Regions from separate parts of the Homo sapiens genome. Here region 2 is linked to region 1. Evidence: fine-mapped expression QTL. Tissue or cell type: prefrontal cortex. Region 1 holds a variant in brackets; the other region holds the start of a gene. All regions are shown on one strand. Distances are between the middles of the regions.

Region 1 (8,104 bases):
CTATTTGGCCGGGCGCAGTGGCTCACCCGTTTAATCCCAGCACTTTGGGAGGCTGAGGCAGGCGGATCACCTGAGGTCAGGAGTTCAAGACCAGCCTGGCCAACATGGCAAAACCCAATCTCTACTAAAAATACAAAAAAACTAGCCGGCCATGGTGGCACACAGTTACTCAGGAGGCAGAGGCAGGAGAATCACTTGAACTTGGGAGGCGGAGGTTGCAGTGAGCAGAGATCATGCCACTGCACTCCTGCCTGGGTGCAGAGCCAGACTTCGTCTCAAAACAAACAAACAAACAAACAAACAAAAATATATATATATTCCTCTATTCGTTCAGCCAGTCAATAATTACCCATTGAGGACCTATTTTGTGCCAGACCCTATGCTAATGCTGAAGCAAACTATGAATGAAACTCAGCCTCTTCCCTGGTGCACAGCCTTCTAGGGGAGACACAAAAGCAGACTGCACAAAAGACTTTTTTTTTAGACAAGGTCTCACTGCGCTCACTCTGGAGTGCAGTGGTGCAATCATGGCTCACTGCAGCCTCAACCTCTCAGATTCAAGCAATCCTCTCACCTCAGCCTCCCAAGTAGCTGGGACTACACCTCAGCCTCCCAAGTAGCTGGGACTACAGGTGTATGCCATCACACCCAGCTAATTTTTTTTTTTTTTTTTTTTTTTTTTTTTTTTTTTTTTGTAGAGACAGGTTTTCACGGTGTTTCCCAGGCTGGTCTTAAACTCCTGGGCTCAAGTGATCTGCCCACCTCGGCCTCCTAAAGTGTTGGGATTATAGGCATGAGCCACCGAGTCAGGCCTACTAAAGTCTTTTAAAGGCTCTGTTGAGGTTCCAAATAGGGAGCAGTTCTGCTTGGAGGCAGAGGTATGCTAGGAAAAAGAATCTTCTGGGAAGAAAGAGATCCTTTGATGTGTTCCTCTACTCAGTCTCAGCCATGTGGCAGGCTGAGAAAGCAAAGGAGACTACTGTAGGCAAAGTCAGGGTTAGAGGAGGCTCTGCCCACCCGTATGAATGCCCATACAAGCCAGGAGTCAGAATGAGTGGGCAAAATGGTTACTGGAGCCACTAACCTATTAGATGGGTACAAGGAAACAGGTGGCACCACAGAGTCCCTCAGTTAAAGAGATAGGCAAGGTCTCAGATAGGAAAGGGACCCCATCCTCATGTCAGAGGAAACTGAGATAGCCACTCTACACCTGGCCCGGGCACAGCAAGGGGGCAGGGGAAGCCACATGTCACAGTAGATGGGTATCCAGGCTCCCCAGGCACACTGAGCCCACAGCTGAACTACTAACCTCAGAGCTCACTGAGTGGGGCGGGACTCCCAGTTTCCAGCCAGGGGAGGACATCCTGGCCCAGACCTGCAGAGGAGAGTCTTCAGGACCTTACCTGGACTGGGACAGTACCTGACGGAATTGTATCTAGAGAGGGTATGTCCAGTACACAGTTGATACATCCAAGCCTATTCAGATCCCCTGACCCTATTCTGTCAAGCTCAGTACCAAACTCTGCCTTGGGCCAGGACTTTCCTATCGTGAGCAATCATTTTGTTGAAACTTTGGACAGAGCAGCTCAGGATGCCAACACACCAGGACAGAGGTCAGTCTGTCAAATGGTCTCACCCTCACTGTCTCAGACTGCTGGGGCAGAAGCAGGGCACTAGAAACCTATTGCGACTGTCTACCCGACCTGGCTCCCCCCTCATATTGTCAGGAAATGAGCCTGAATCGCAGGCACATGCTGCTCACCACATCCTCAGTACCAGATGGAGCCTGGAAGTCACCTGGCCCAACTGCTGTCAGTGCAGGTATGCACGTGTGTCTATGCGTGGAGATAAGATGTGAGTGGATTCACACATTGTTGGATATGTGTGTATGTGTGTACAAATGGGACTATAACTCTTGTGTATGTTTGTGAGCAGCTGTGTGAATTTGTGTCTATGCACATGGGCAAGGGACTGTGGGTTGGCACACTCAGGTAGATCAGATAAAGGCAAAGACATGGATGTGCACGTGAGCCTGAGTTGGCATATTGGCAGACTTACAACACATGCATGCCCAGGCTAACAGCTGACACGCCAATTCTCGCTTATCAATAGCTGGAGAAGCTGCCATAAATCCACCAGAAGAAGAGCTGTCAGAAGCTGACTTTAAGATGACACTATGTGGTACTGCACTGCAGGTACCATGGCAAGGAGGTCCCAGGAGACAGGGAGCTCACCACCCTTCAGGGGTGACGGGCATTTGGAAGACAGTGTGACTGGTGTGCCTGAGGCTGCCCAGGCTCTGTAAGTGAGGGTCAGGTCCCATGTCTCATGGCAGATGAGTCCTACTGAGCCTTGACAAGCCAAGACCTTCCATACTGCAAGGTCAAGATCAGGGTCCATGGTGAGAACCACCATAAAGAGCTGCTGTTTTCCCAGGTCCTTAGGTGATTTGAGGACAGGGTTGTATCTAGGGTGACCGCCAAATACCAGGTTACCTTAGGCTTTGCTGGTTTTAGCATTGAAAGTCCTGCATCCCTGGAAACCCCTCAGTCCCAGGCAAATTTGGGCAGCTGGTTACACTAGCAGATCTGAACCTAAAACAGCTGAAGGAAGCAGCAGGAGTTGGAGTGGGGGGTGTGGAGGGTCTTTCTCAGACCCTTCTACATCAGAATAGAAGTCAGATGTAATGGTGCTGCCTGTATTCTCAGCTGCTCAGGAGGCTGAGGCAGGAGAGTCTTTTGATCCCTAGAGTTCAGGGCCAGCCTGGGCAACATAATAACACCCTATCTCTAAAAAGAAAGAAGAAGAAAATACAAAGTAAAATACAAAACTGGGGCTCTGGAAGGAATGTGTGATGTGTGAGTGAGAGGCCTAGAAGCTGAAGCTTCAGTAGATTCAAGATCATCTTCTTCTGCCATGAAAAGGGTTTGAACCAGGCGGGCACAGTGGCTCATGCCTGTAATCCCAGCACTTTGGGAGGCCAAGATGGGTGGATCACCTGAGGTCAGGAGTTCAAGACTAGCCTGGCCAACATGGTGAAACCCCGTCTCTACCAAAAAAAAAAAAAAGAAAAAAAATTTGCTGGGCATGGTGGCGTGCACCTGTAATGCCAATATTTGAAAGGCTGAGGCAGGAGAATCACTTGAACCTAGGAGACAGAGGTTGCAGTGAGCTGAGATCCGCCATTGCACTCCAGCCTGGGTGACCGAGTGAGACTCCAGCTCAAAAAAAAAAAGAGTTTGAACCTTCTTTGGAGCCAACCCAAACTGTATGTGAATCCAAGCTCTGCACCTCAGAGAGAATAAGTCACTTGCTTGGTCGTACACAGCCAATGAGGAAATCTCCCTCCTCTGCAAAGCAGAGAAAATCACATTGGGAGAGCAGTGCAGGTCAAATAAGATAATATGGGCAAATATACATAAGCACACATACAGCACATGGCATGTAGGCTACTCCTTCCCCTTCCCTCTCCAGTGCATGGCTGTTGACTGAGGGAACTGAGGAGAGAGAAATCAACGGCCCTAGATTGGTGAGGAGCAGGGCTAACAGGACCCAGGGAGAGCTGGCTTTTCTCGGCCCACCAAGACATCTACTCCAGGAAACCTTGGCTCTGCCTCTGGCTCCTGGGAAATCCACGGCAAGACTCAGTCTCCACATCCCTATATGGGACTTGCAGAATACTTGCCTTAGCTTTGTCCCAGCACTTTGGGAGGCAGATTCAGAACATCTGTGCAATTTAAAGTGTGTCTTTTCAGCAAAAGAGCCAAGCCTAAGGAGACTCAACAAGGGTTTCGGCCAATTAGGCCTGAAAACTGCTGCACATTCTAAAACCATTGATTCATCTTCCTTCTTCTCTGCAAATCCCTGACCCTTGCTCACAGTAGATCATGTAGGGCTAGACCAAGGGATGGGGGGTGCTCTGTTCCCTCAAAGGCCCCTGGCAGGGGGAGGGGGGGAATGCTGAGTCCTCAGCTGTGGAGACCTCTCCCAGGAGCACACAGAGGAGGGATCTCCTCTATCTGAGAACACATCCACCCAAGGGCATCCTGGGAAGTGGCCTGGCTTGGGCTTGAAGTGACCTGTACCCCCATAAATGGCCCAACCAGGAAAAGGAAAACAGGCTGCATTTCCAAGCACCCTCCAGTGTCAGAGCAGGAGAACGAGGAAGCCCAAGGAGCTTTACCAGCAGCCAAAAAGGTTCCTGGGCTTACCTGTGTCTTCAAGTTATCAGCATCCAGGACCCCAATAGCAGTGCCTTGCTTTGTGTAAATACCCTCTAGGAATGAGATCTCGTGCCTCTCGGGCAGTTCAGATCTATCTTGGCCAGCTCTGTGCAAGTCTGTCCTAAGATGGGGCTTAACTCTGCCTTCAGGCCCTTCACTCTTCCTTGGAAGGTTTGAAGAGTGGGTCAGCTGCCCCTTCATGGTCCCAGACTGGGCACTGACTGGGAATGGGGAGCAGAACTGCCTCTCACCCTGGTGGACACCTGAGGGTCCTCCCTGCTGCCCACCACACAGATCAGACCCTTTGGGAGAGGTGGTCCAGCCTGGGGAACAGGGCAGGAATGGGTTGAGATCACAGAGAGGGGGTCCTGATAACCCCTTACCATCTGCTGCCCATCCATCACCCTTTCTCTTTGCCTTTGGTCTCACGCGGCTTATAGAACCTGCTTAGACTGCTAAGGCAAGGCCCTCTCGGCCGCTCCACTAACTTTTCTTCTGGAATGCTTAGCTCAGAGAAGACAGCTAAGCCCCTGAAAGTCACAGAGGAAGTTGATGAGAAAAGAAAACTGCGAAGCCCAAGCCCCACCAGGACTTAAGTACCCTGGGAAAGCCTCAGGACAACTTGGGGGAAAGACACTCCTGTCCCCCATGGTGTCCTCCTGTCCAGGACTGGGGGCCGCCGGCAAAGGGGGCGTGG[C/T]GGGCGGGGAGTCCTCTTGTCACGCCCTCCTGCCCCCGCCCGCGGCTGGGAGCCTGTCGCTCCGCTCTGCGCCGCTAATTGGTCTCGTCAGGCGGCCGGCAGGAGCAGATCCGAGCCGTGTCATCCTCTTAGCGCCCTCACGCCACCCGCCGCTCCCGCCCCGTGCCCCCTCCCGCCGCGGCTGCAGTCGCCGCTACCCCCATTGTGGTCTCTGCCCTCCCCGCGGGCCCAGGGCATGCTCCGTGCCCCTGCGCCCGGTCTCGGCGGCGGCAGGCGACACTCCGCGCCGGCGGAGACATGAGGCGCTGCCGGTGGGCCGCCCTGGCCCTGGGGCTGCTGCGCCTCTGCTTGGGTGAGTGGCCGCTGGGCCGCGCTGGCCGCGTGGATGGCGAGGGAGATGGGCGCTGGCGTCACCCAGGTGGCCAGAGGGACATGGTCCTGGACCACTTCCAGAGTGGGACTCGGGCTGGTGGACGGGAGCGGAGAAGTCCTTCCATCTTCCTGGCCCATTCGGTAGTGGGGAGTGGGGTAGCGGAGTAGTGGGGAGCTCCGGGGCGCTTCTCCAGAGCTGGCATCCTAGGGCCCCAGGGTTTGGCGCCCGGACCCCCGCTGCTCTCCGCTTGCTGGGAACCAGAGCTGTAGGCTTGGTGGCAGCTCCGATGCTGCGTGGGGCAGGAGATAGTGCCCTGACTCGCGGCTTGACCTTGGCTGGGCTGGGGCACTGCCCCTCTCCGAGCGCGGGTGCAATCTGCCCATTGATGAAGGAGGGGTTGGATTGCTACCTGGGTTCTAAGCGCCCACATGCTACGTGTCCCTGACAAGCCCGAGCCCACCGGGGGCGGAGTGGGGGTCAGGGGCATCCTCTGGGCGGCGCCCCAGTGGGGTCCCTCGGTGCACTTGGGTTGGGGAGGCGGAGCGCCCTCCTGCCCAGTAGCTGGGCCTGACGCGGGACCGCGCTGGTGCGAAGCTCCCTCCTGGTGTCTGGGTGTCCTTTGCCTGGGTGTCCGTCTGTTCTGTGTTCTTTTTCCAGCTCAGGCCAACTTCGCCCCGCACTTCTTCGACAACGGGGTCGGCAGCACCAACGGAAACATGGCTCTGTTCAGCCTCCCAGAGGACACCCCTGTAGGTGAGTAGCCCTGGCACCTGCTCCCGATAGGTCTCCCTGAGGGGTGCAGGCAGACTTAGAACACAAAGTGCCCCAGGCACCACCCAAGTTGCTGCGCGCGCCCGGGGGCTCCTTGTTTGCTCTCCGAATTCCCCTGGGCAATGGCAGGAAAGAAGGTCATTGCTGCCATGGCGACTTAAGTCTGGCCAGTCCTGGAGACCAGGGCTCCCCCCCACAGACAGGGTCGCCCCGCGAGGCAGGCAGCTACAGCTGCCCCTTATGGCTGTGTGACCTTGAACAAATGTATTTACCTCCCTGAGCCCCAGGTCTCTAGGCTTTAAAACGGCCTAAGAACATCCAACTTGCTGAGATATGCAGAGAGAGGGGAGGAGAAAGGGGAGATTTCACACTCCTTCTCCCTCACTTTGTGGGTAGTGGGAACCCGGGGAAAAGGGAGAGCAGAGCAAAGTAGGCACCTGGCTCAGAAATCCCTGCAGAACCAGGTCCAGGCATCGGGGACAGTGGTGCACTGTGGGTCACCCCTCCTGCCTTAATGGCTGCTCCCATTTCCCCTTCCCTGTACCCAGGAGCCCCTCAATCTTGGATCCTGAGAGAGGAGTTATTACCAGGCTGAGCAGAACATAGGCACTACAGTTAGGCACGGCAGACCTGCACCTGCTCTGTAACCCGTGTTATAGATTACAATCTGGAAAGTGGCTGATCATCACAACCACCCGCTGTGAAGAATAAACATACAAAGAGGGAAGCAGCCAGCAGGGGTGAGGCCAGCAATGAGCACCAAGTTCAGGGCAGTACCTTTGGCACTGAGTTGAATAGTCACTTTATAAACAGCTGAATCGTTGGTCCTGAGCATCTGCCACTTTTAGGAAAAGTTGGGTCTCAGATTCTATGTCTCTCCACTGTGTTTCCTTCCAGGCTCTCACGTATACACCCTGAATGGGACAGACCCTGAGGGAGACCCCATCTCCTACCACATCAGCTTTGACCCCAGCACTAGAAGCGTCTTTTCTGTTGACCCCACTTTTGGAAACATCACCCTGGTTGAAGAGCTGGACAGAGAGGTATGGGGAGGTGTGGGGAGTGCTGCGGGGCCACTGCCTGTAGACAGACCTCGGTGGGCTGAAGTTCCCCTGGAGCACATTGGTTAGAACCTCTCCACAGAGTAGGGGATGAGGGGGCACACCCCAGGCACATCCACTCTGTGAGATCTCTGGGCCACTTCCCATCAGCAGAGTGGGCTTTACTTTCATGCTCCTCCTTCACACAGAGCGAAGAGTGGGCTCCTTTAACGAGCACCTGCCAGCCCTGCTAATCTTTTAAGCATGTTCCATTAAAAATAAATCCGTTTGCACTTTGAGGTTTCTGAAAGAAACCTCACAAAGTGATTTTTCAAGCCTGTCCTGGGAGAGGCACAGGAACTCAGAGCAGGTCAAGGCTGGAAAGGGTGGTTGGCAGTGAGTCTGAGTTTGGCAGAGCTCCTCCACTCTACACACTTGAGAACTTGCAGGCAACAGGGCATGGGCTTTTTCAGACCGCATAGCAGCCTGGTGTGTGGCTAACTGGACCTCAGCTGTGGGGATGCTGCCAGCTCGTGACAGCCTCCACTAGCTGCAGGACAGGGTAGAGAAAGGAAAGGGAGGTCTCAGGGACTGCTGTGGGGACACAGCAGTGGAGCCTGACTGTGCTGCCAGTACCCCACTCCCTGGCACCCGCGGGATCTGGCAACATCCGATACCCTTCCCCATTGAGGTCTCACCATATCCTGGGAGCACTGAGACACCATGGATGTGAGCCTCTGCAGAGCCCTGGAATGTGGAGAGGTGTGGAGAGAAAAGGGGAGAAAAGGGAAAAGAAAGAGGAAAAGTCTTTATGGGACCTTGAGCACACTAAGGTCGACATCTCGCCTCACTGTGGCAGGAGAGTATTTTCTGTTGGAGCCCCAACAGACCCTCTGGGTCTCTGAGTTTATAAGAACCCCGGACACAAAAGTCCCAAAATAAGGTCTCAAGCATGGGGGGAGGCAGCTTTCTACTCTGCCAGGCATGCTGTCACCACCAC
Region 2 (8,104 bases), 33 kb after region 1:
AGCACCACACACAGGACCACTGTGACATGCAGGAGGTGCTCACGTGCCTCTAGCCCACCAGCATCTCTGCCTGTTACAAAAGCTACACACTGGCCCTGGTGTGGAGGCTGGCCCTCTAGGCTGAGGCAGGCCTCATATTTTGTGCCAGGAAGGAGGTCATCCACAGCATAAGTATTGATTCCGGGGCCAATGTGAACCACCTCCTTCCTGAAGGCTTCATCCGATGCAATGTAGAGGGTGAACCACTCCTCCTTAGAGGTGTCAGCCACTGCAAGCCACTCCAGCAAAATCCCATGCACTGTCTGCTTGACAACCCGCAGGTCAATGTAGGCATTGCCCTCCGAGGGGATGGAAAGAGAATCAGGTGCATGTAGGGCCTGGGCAGGCTGGACATGGAGAGAGATTACAAGGTTGCTCTTGCCAATGGAGTTGGAGGCCATGCAGGTGTAATTACCACTGTCTACCAGGTGGGCAGCAGGTATGGCCAGCTCTGACAGAGCAGTGTCTTCTCCAGTAGAAGATGTCAACACTGGGTGGAAAGAAAAACAAAACAGCTGTGCATTTATCTGATAGACTGCTGGAAAGTGTCTAGCAATGCCAGTTTTGTTTTGTTTTGCTTTGTTTTTTGTTATTGTTGTTGTTAGAAGATGGTGGTAACCTCTTATGAACCTCGTACCTGGTGTCAGGTGTTTGCCTCCCAGCAATCCTGTAAGATAAATAACTGATCTTTACACATAGGATATTGAGGATTGGAGCAATCCATCAACTTGCCCGTAGTGAGAGTTGTTCAGAAGCAACAATTGATATGGGACCTGGCTCTTCAATCTATGAAGACCATACTCTTTCAACTTCACTAACTGCACCCACCAAACCACCTTCGCCTTGCTGAGCCATGGCTTTCAGGAGAGTTCTTGCAACTATGTGATTGTACGATATTATGAGCTTCAGGAAGTGCCTTCTTACCTTCCAGATGCACAGTTCCTCAGAGCCTGGAGCCACATGCCTGGGCTGCTATCCCTAATGGAGCTCCTATCCAGTGTGGTACTGGGCAAGTTGCTTAAATTCTCTTGACAATTTTCTTGTCAATAAAATGGGATGATAAGCAATCACCTACCTCATTAGTTTGAAAGTAAGTGTTCAATGCTTATATTTTTACTGAGAGATTATATAACACGTTGCCAAACAGTGATTATAGAACACCACGAAAGACAACACCTGTATGCATTTCTTGGTTTTCAAAGAGGCTACAACAATAAATCCTATAATTTTCTTTCATTGATATTGAATGCCAAACCAATAAGGTATTATCAAAACAATACAGAATGTGAAAATTCAGTTAATTGGGTATTTTTAAACCATCCAGAGTTTTGTCATAATGTATAACAAATACCTGGGCAAATGACTATATTTCCCAAGTTTTACCCAGCTATTCCTAGTTGTCTTCTAGACAGAGAACAGAAGACAGGACACGAGGAATGTACGAAGATTTTTCTTTTCAGCTTTGGGATACCCCCAGGGAGGCCATCCCCGGCTTTGTGATATGCCCAACCCTACAGAGTAGCATTAAAGGTAATCCCAGCTGAGGTATGAAAACAGAGCAGAGGGTTCCAGGAAGGAAGAGGCAGGTTTGAATTCCAGCCCCAGGGCCCACAGAGGTCACTTCCTTTCCCTGGGTCCCAGTATTACAAATTCAAGCCAATAAGGTCTGAACAATTTTATGTCAGTGTTATTTCAAACAAGCACCCCAGGTGATTCTGCTCAGGCAAGTTAAGGAAATAACTAATAGATCATCTCTAAAATCAATCCTAGTAAAAAATTCTAGAATTCTAAAATACATAGTCCAGTGTTTTGCATCTAGAAGATTCCCAAAGACTATATCTGCTCATATAAAATTTTATAATATTTGCATAAGATATTAAATTAGCCCTGAAATATGTGTTTATATATGTGTATATGTTCTGTATGCAAAGAGATCTGTATGCAAACATTTAAAATAATGCCAATAGTGGAACACTACCTTGAAATCTTTTCTGTTCTAGTGAGCATAATTCAGGGCTATCCCAATCTTACTTGCACCCACCCTTCGTGACTGACCCAGCTTTGAATCTCTCTAATGAGGATGGGTTTGCTACAGACCTCTCCATTCCCTCCAGATACACTGAGAGGGTGCATGTGGCTTACCATCAAATTCTCTCCACATACTCAGGGGATAAGTCCATGCAATGGATGGTGAGGGGCTGGCCTGTGCCAAGCATCGCAGGGTCACATTCTGTCCTGCCCGGATGGTGATATTGGCACTGGGGGTTGAGATCTGTGGCTTCATGCAAGCACTAAGCTCAGTTTCATGAAAAAGCTGCCCTGCCTTGGACAGAGGGCCCTGACATATCAGGTAGGAATTCACCAGGATGACTGGGAGGGTAATGGACTTGACAAACTGGACAAGCCCCCTTAGGCGACAGTCACATACCCAGGGGTTGTCATGCAGGGCCACCACCAGGCTGGAGAGAATCTCAGCCCCACAGTCAGGCTGCCGGCATTTCTGGTAGGCTGGCCAGTTCAGGAAGACACTCTTGGATACAACTGTAAGCCTATTGGAGGATAGGTCAAGGTAGGTCAGGCTGACCAAGAATTGAAGAGCCAGCTCAGGGAGTGCATCAATCTTGTTGCGTTTGAGATCCAAGACCCTCAGGAGAGGGGTGGCACGGAACGCTGTCCATGGTACTGAGCAGAGCTTGTTCCCCTCCAGTCTCAGCTCCCTCAGTTCTGGCAGGTGTTCCAGGGCTCCTAGGTGGATCACACTGATATTGTTAAAATTGAGCCAGAGGTATTCCAAGGTGCTCATGTTGATGAAAGACCCTTGGGGCATCTCAAATAAGGGTGAATTTTCAATTCTCACTTGCTTGAACTCTTCAGAAAGGTTCCCAGGGATCTTTCCCAAGGAGACAGATGTGCACTGCAGAGTCCTGTACAAGAAACCAGAACAGCTTTAAGATAAACAACAGGGGACTGAAAAGTGGGGTCAGGCTGATCCTGGCATTAGACATGTGAATCAGAATAAAAATATTATTATTCATTGAAATAAAAGAGTTAGACTCATTTTGGTAAAAATGCACAGTTCAGCAAAGTTCAGTCCCAACTAGAATGAGTCTCATAGAGTTTTGCTGATTTCCTGCCAATTCTAAGCCTGCTTCCACTCCACATCATCCCCAAAGAAAACCCATTCCCCATAACCCTCTAACATCTGGCCAGCAGAGCGCACCTGCCAAAACTCTCCTCTGAGCAAGTGCATCCTGGCAGACAGAAAGGCTGAGCTGCGTGTGTATCCAGAAAGACCAGAACTAACAGGAAGTAATGAAAAACTGAAGCCATATTTCTCTGTAAGAAAATACGTTGTGAGTTTTGAATAAGTATCGCCCCAGCTTCCGAGTGGCAAATCCTATTATTGGTAATCCATGATGATGTAAGTCACACAGCAGCAGGAAAGCCCATGGGAGCTCTGAGGTCTGTTACAGCCCAGACCACAAGTTCAGTCAGAACACACGAAGGGGGATCAATGTCTCTTAACTAGGGTCAGGAAATTCAACATTTGTGTAATTCTTGAGTCTGAAAAGCAAACTCCAAGTCAGATGTCCAATTCCATACAGATTCTACATTTCTTAGAGTCTTAAACAGAAGTCTGAGAAACAAGCAGGCAGTGCTATTCTGAGCACCACTGTTCAGGGGATGTGGCCAGAATCCATCTAATGCTTCATCATTTGCAGTTGATTCCTGAAACCTAGAATTTCCAATCATTTTCTCAAAGTGAAAATAGGTGATGAGTAACAAAGTAATTCTGTGTTCATTCCTATCATTTGTTCTCTTCCCAACACCACGGGTGGTGTAGTCATGCTCCTACTGCATCAAGACAGCTGCTTCTGCAGCTTGGGTCACCAGTTTCAAATACAAGATGGTATTTTCTGATTAAACCAAAAGATTGTTTTCTTGGACTTCACAACCTTTCCTTAATACTGTGCATTTCACTTCATCAAAATGGGCAACCTACATTTTAAAAAGAGATGTATACAATTTTATATGCTTGCTCTTTCACTCTTCATTTATTCCACAAATATTTACTGGTCATTTGCTTTAAGCTATACTCTTGCCCAATGAAAGGAACAGGGTCAAGGGCAAACCTATTATAGACCCTGTCCCAAGGAGTCTTCTCTCTTGTTTGTGCTTCTGAATCTTGAGATCTTTGGAATGTAATTTAATCTCTGTGAGTCTTTTCTGTATCATGAGAATATTAACAAATACCTCATAGTGTTTCCAGGAATTTATTTCTCATTATTTTTTAATTTTTGTATTTTTTCAGAGACAGGGTCTCACTCTGTTGCCCAGGCTGGTCTCAAACTTCTCAGCCTCCCAAGTAACTGGGATTACAGGTGCAAGCCATTGCATCCAGCCATATTTTTAGAAAAGTTTGAGATTATGTTAAATACAACACCTAGCACACAGTTGGTGCCCATTAATCCTCCTCCCACTGACAAACTCTTTAAGATCCGAAAAGTCTACATCTCTATTAACTAGGGCACTTCCAGTTGAATATTGAAATTCCATGAGTTCCTTTAAGACTCATGATATACATTGTACCCTACAAAAGGCCTCAGGAAAGAAAATCCGCTTAGCTAACCAGTGAGGGGGGAAATGGGTCACCAGCTAAGCTGATTACACTCCAGGCTTTCCATCCAAGCCAGAAATATTTGCAGGAGTTTCCAAACAGTCTAACTCTAAAACCTGGGGGGACCACTGTGTTTGTCTAAAGGTAAAAATCCAAAACAAAGAGAGAGCTATCGGCACAAAGTTTGTCATACATATGGCTATGTGCTTCCTAGATCCCCCTTCAAGGTATAAGTGGATGCTCAGCTGCAAGGAGTGCTTGCATGAGGTCACGTCCTTCCCAAAGCAGCCACATCCCACATTCAGTGACTGAGGGTGGTGAGGGCCTGGCCAGTTTGCCCTGATGGGGGAAAACTCTGATGAGCAATTATCACTCCAGAGTCCCCTACCAGCTTTGCTAAGGCTTTGTCAGGCTTGTTTCATGGAAATATGTGATTTAATTCATGACTATTCCAAACCACTAGTGGATTCCTTTCTCTCCCCTTACCCCAAAGGATAAAGATCTTAAGAGTCCTCCATTCCCCCACAATTTCCTCTCTGTCCATCTCATGCCAGCCTTTTCAAATGAATCCAGCTCCATCCAACTTTCAAGAAGTTTGCGGGAAGCTTGTGAAGCACACCCACTGGCATGCTATCTCTAGAATCATCTAGGCCACTTCTCTACTGCCCCCCACTCCTTTCCTGACCCCCTCATTCTCTGGTTTCCTTATTTGGCATATGAACAGAGGGAGTGGCTCTCTTGGAAATTGAGGCAGGAGACCAGGATAATTGAAGTTAGCATGGGTCAAGTTATTTATGTTAAACAACCTGTGGTTCAGTGTAGTCCCTAAACTCAAGAGACCCTAACAACAATGGCAAGAGGGTCTGGAAATATTACAACCCATCTTCCCTCTTGCAGGATGCTTTTCAGAACTAGGGTCTTAAAATTCTCCATAGAGACAGAGTCATGGGGGAGGAATTACTCTGTGTTTGTGAAATGCTTAGATATAAATGGCTGCAGGGAGGCAGCTCCCTGGCTTGTCTTAATAGAATCTTAATAGGAGAGTGTCCTATCTATTCAATTGGAAAATGCCACTCACCTTCCCAATATTAGTAAAACACTGGGCTACCTCAGACAGAGAACAGGGCATCCTATCAGGGAGCAGACACGCTGTACTCCGTTTCTCTGAAGCTAGGACTCTTTCCCACCCCCATCGTCTGCTGCCAGCATGTCTGAGATGCTGCCTCAGCTACCCACGCTCTTAGGTATGCCTGTGGCAGAGACACAAAAGACCTTTCCAAGCCTCCTTGAAATAGGTGGGCTACAAGACTCTTGATCTAGCTAATGAAATGTTACAAGAAATGAGGTTTGAAAAGCCCTAACATGATCTTCCAATTTATCTTTTTCCTTGTTGTGGCAACCACTGACATTCCAAATGGTGGAGTCTTCCCAGCCATGTCCTTGAGTAAATTAGTGAAGCAGAGCCCTCCCTCCTTCTGTATTTCCCAAACTTAAGTAGAGTCTGTGGAACAGGAATACATTTTTCCGTGTTAAGCCATGGAAATTTGGGAATGGTTGCCTAAGCATAAATCTAACCTATCCTAACTACAATGCCCTTGTGAATAAATATGCTCAGGTACTTGTATGTTGATTTTTGCCTTTGTTAGATTATATGATAATTAAGACAAAAATTTCCAGCTCTTGTCCTCTAGACAAACTGCTCACTGAATCCCTCGATTGATAGCCTAGGTTTGATAGCCCACATCCACTTTCCAGAGCACAATTTCTGTATTTGCCTTTTTGTACCCAGCAACTTCAATGGGCAAGTGACCTTGGACATATTCTCTGCTTAATCATGAGGAATAAAACCATGTTGCAGTCATCAAAAGACATCATGAAGATGCTATGATTCCAACCAACCTACAAACCAGGCTTCCAAGGCCAGCTATGCTGCAGCCTCGCCATGGCCCAAATTGGTCTTCAGCATTGGAAGGCCAGAAATTCTTTTGCCAGGATACTCAGAGGGCATTCAATTTTCAGGGACTAACTCATACTCATCAGACTCACATACTAAAAGACTAAGGTAAGCCAGACATCATTTTATTTTTTACAATAAGAATGTGTTTCTTCCCATGACTTGAATATTCATGAGCGTAATCCAGGATGATTCTTCTCTACAAGGGCAAACCAGGGAAGACAGGATACACAAAGGAAGGTTGACAGATGAGTTTTGGGAGGCTTATCATCTTGGAGGCTGTATTAGTCCATTTTCACACTGCTGGTAAACACATACCCAAGACTGGGTAATTTATAAAGAAAAAGAGGTTTAGTGGACTCACAGTTCCACATGGCTGGGCAGACCTCACAATCATGGCAGAAGGCAAGGAGGAGCGAAGGCATGTCTTACATGACATCAGGCAAAAGGATTTGTGCAGGGGTACTTCCATTTATAAAACCATCAAATCTCATGCGACTTATTCATTACCACGAGAACAGTATGGGGGAAACTGCCCCCGTGATTCAATGATCTCCACCTGGCCCCACCCTTGATTCATGGGGGTTATTACAATTCAAGGTGAGATTTGGGTGGGGACACAGTCAAACCATATCAGAGGCCTTTCCATCCAGACCATGAAAATAGGTCCCAATAAACCATTGGATCATTGGCAAGATTGAATTCTCTCTCTCTCTTTCTGTCTCTGTTAACATCAGATAAATACTACAGATTTCTTGCTTTTAAGTTCCTGATTTTTCTTCAAACAAGACTCAATAAAACTGGCTAAATGTTACTTGTCTTTAGGTCAATAACTGTCCCATCATGATTGGTTCAGACCATCATTTAAAGGCAACATCCTGATCACTTCAACAGATGACTGCTTTCATCTACTGCATTTACATTTGTCCTAATTTTGGGGGTGTCTATCACTCTCATTTATCAAAGAGTCAGAATTGAGTCTTGGGTCTCCAAAACTCACCAGAAATATCTTTCTAAATTTTCATAAGGGGTAAACAAACTACAATCTCAGGGTCAAACCCAGCCTGTCACCTGTTTTTGTAAAAAGTGTCTTATTGGAAGACATCCATACCCACTAATTTACATATTGTCTATGGCTGCTTTTGCATCCCATCAGCAGAGTTAAGTAGTAGCAACAGAGCCTAAAATATTTACTATTTGCCTTTCTTTACAGGAAAAAAGTTTGCTGGCTCCCAATGTACACAGTGTCTTTGTCATCTTACAACAAAACAGCCTCTCTTACCAATGTCTATGGTCCACAAGTTATAGTCAGGTGCACCCTCCAGGTGGTGGCAGAAGATATCCAAGAATGGAAATTCCATGCTCATGTGCATGGGTGCTCTCATGGTTCTGATCCCAGGTTTCAGTGATTTTTAAAAAGTTGATTTCTATAGTGAACCTTCTGTAGACCACATTGCAGGGATGGATACTGAATAAAGACCATCAGCCTGATG

Direction of the effects. Positions count from the first base shown, and alleles are read on the strand shown. Sizes are in standard deviations (SD) of each study's normalised expression.
In carriers of allele C in region 1, the expression in prefrontal cortex of the gene that starts at base 3,393 in region 2 tends to be lower than with T alone (moderate effect, 0.75 SD a copy in GTEx).

What was found. PIP is the estimated chance that this variant, and not a neighbour inherited with it, causes the effect.
Region 2: LRIT2 starts here. The variant in region 1 is fine-mapped to the expression of LRIT2 in prefrontal cortex (GTEx, PIP above 0.99). The same link has a PIP of 0.9 or more in anterior cingulate cortex, caudate, cerebral cortex, hippocampus, nucleus accumbens and putamen.

Annotation. Positions count from the first base shown.
Region 1 is chr10:84,189,544-84,197,647 of GRCh38, forward strand. CDHR1 (cadherin related family member 1) reads left to right here and starts at 4,994. Exons shown (of 17, transcript NM_033100.4): 1 at 4,994-5,272; 2 at 5,951-6,046; 3 at 6,962-7,107. The coding sequence starts at 5,218. RefSeq lists silencers at 4,890-5,019, 5,090-5,209. The variant C/T (reference allele first, on the strand shown) is at 4,921.
Region 2 is chr10:84,222,152-84,230,255 of GRCh38, forward strand. LRIT2 (leucine rich repeat, Ig-like and transmembrane domains 2) reads right to left here and starts at 3,393. Exons shown (of 3, transcript NM_001017924.5): 1 at 3,260-3,393; 2 at 2,182-2,963; 3 at 1-529. The coding sequence starts at 3,369.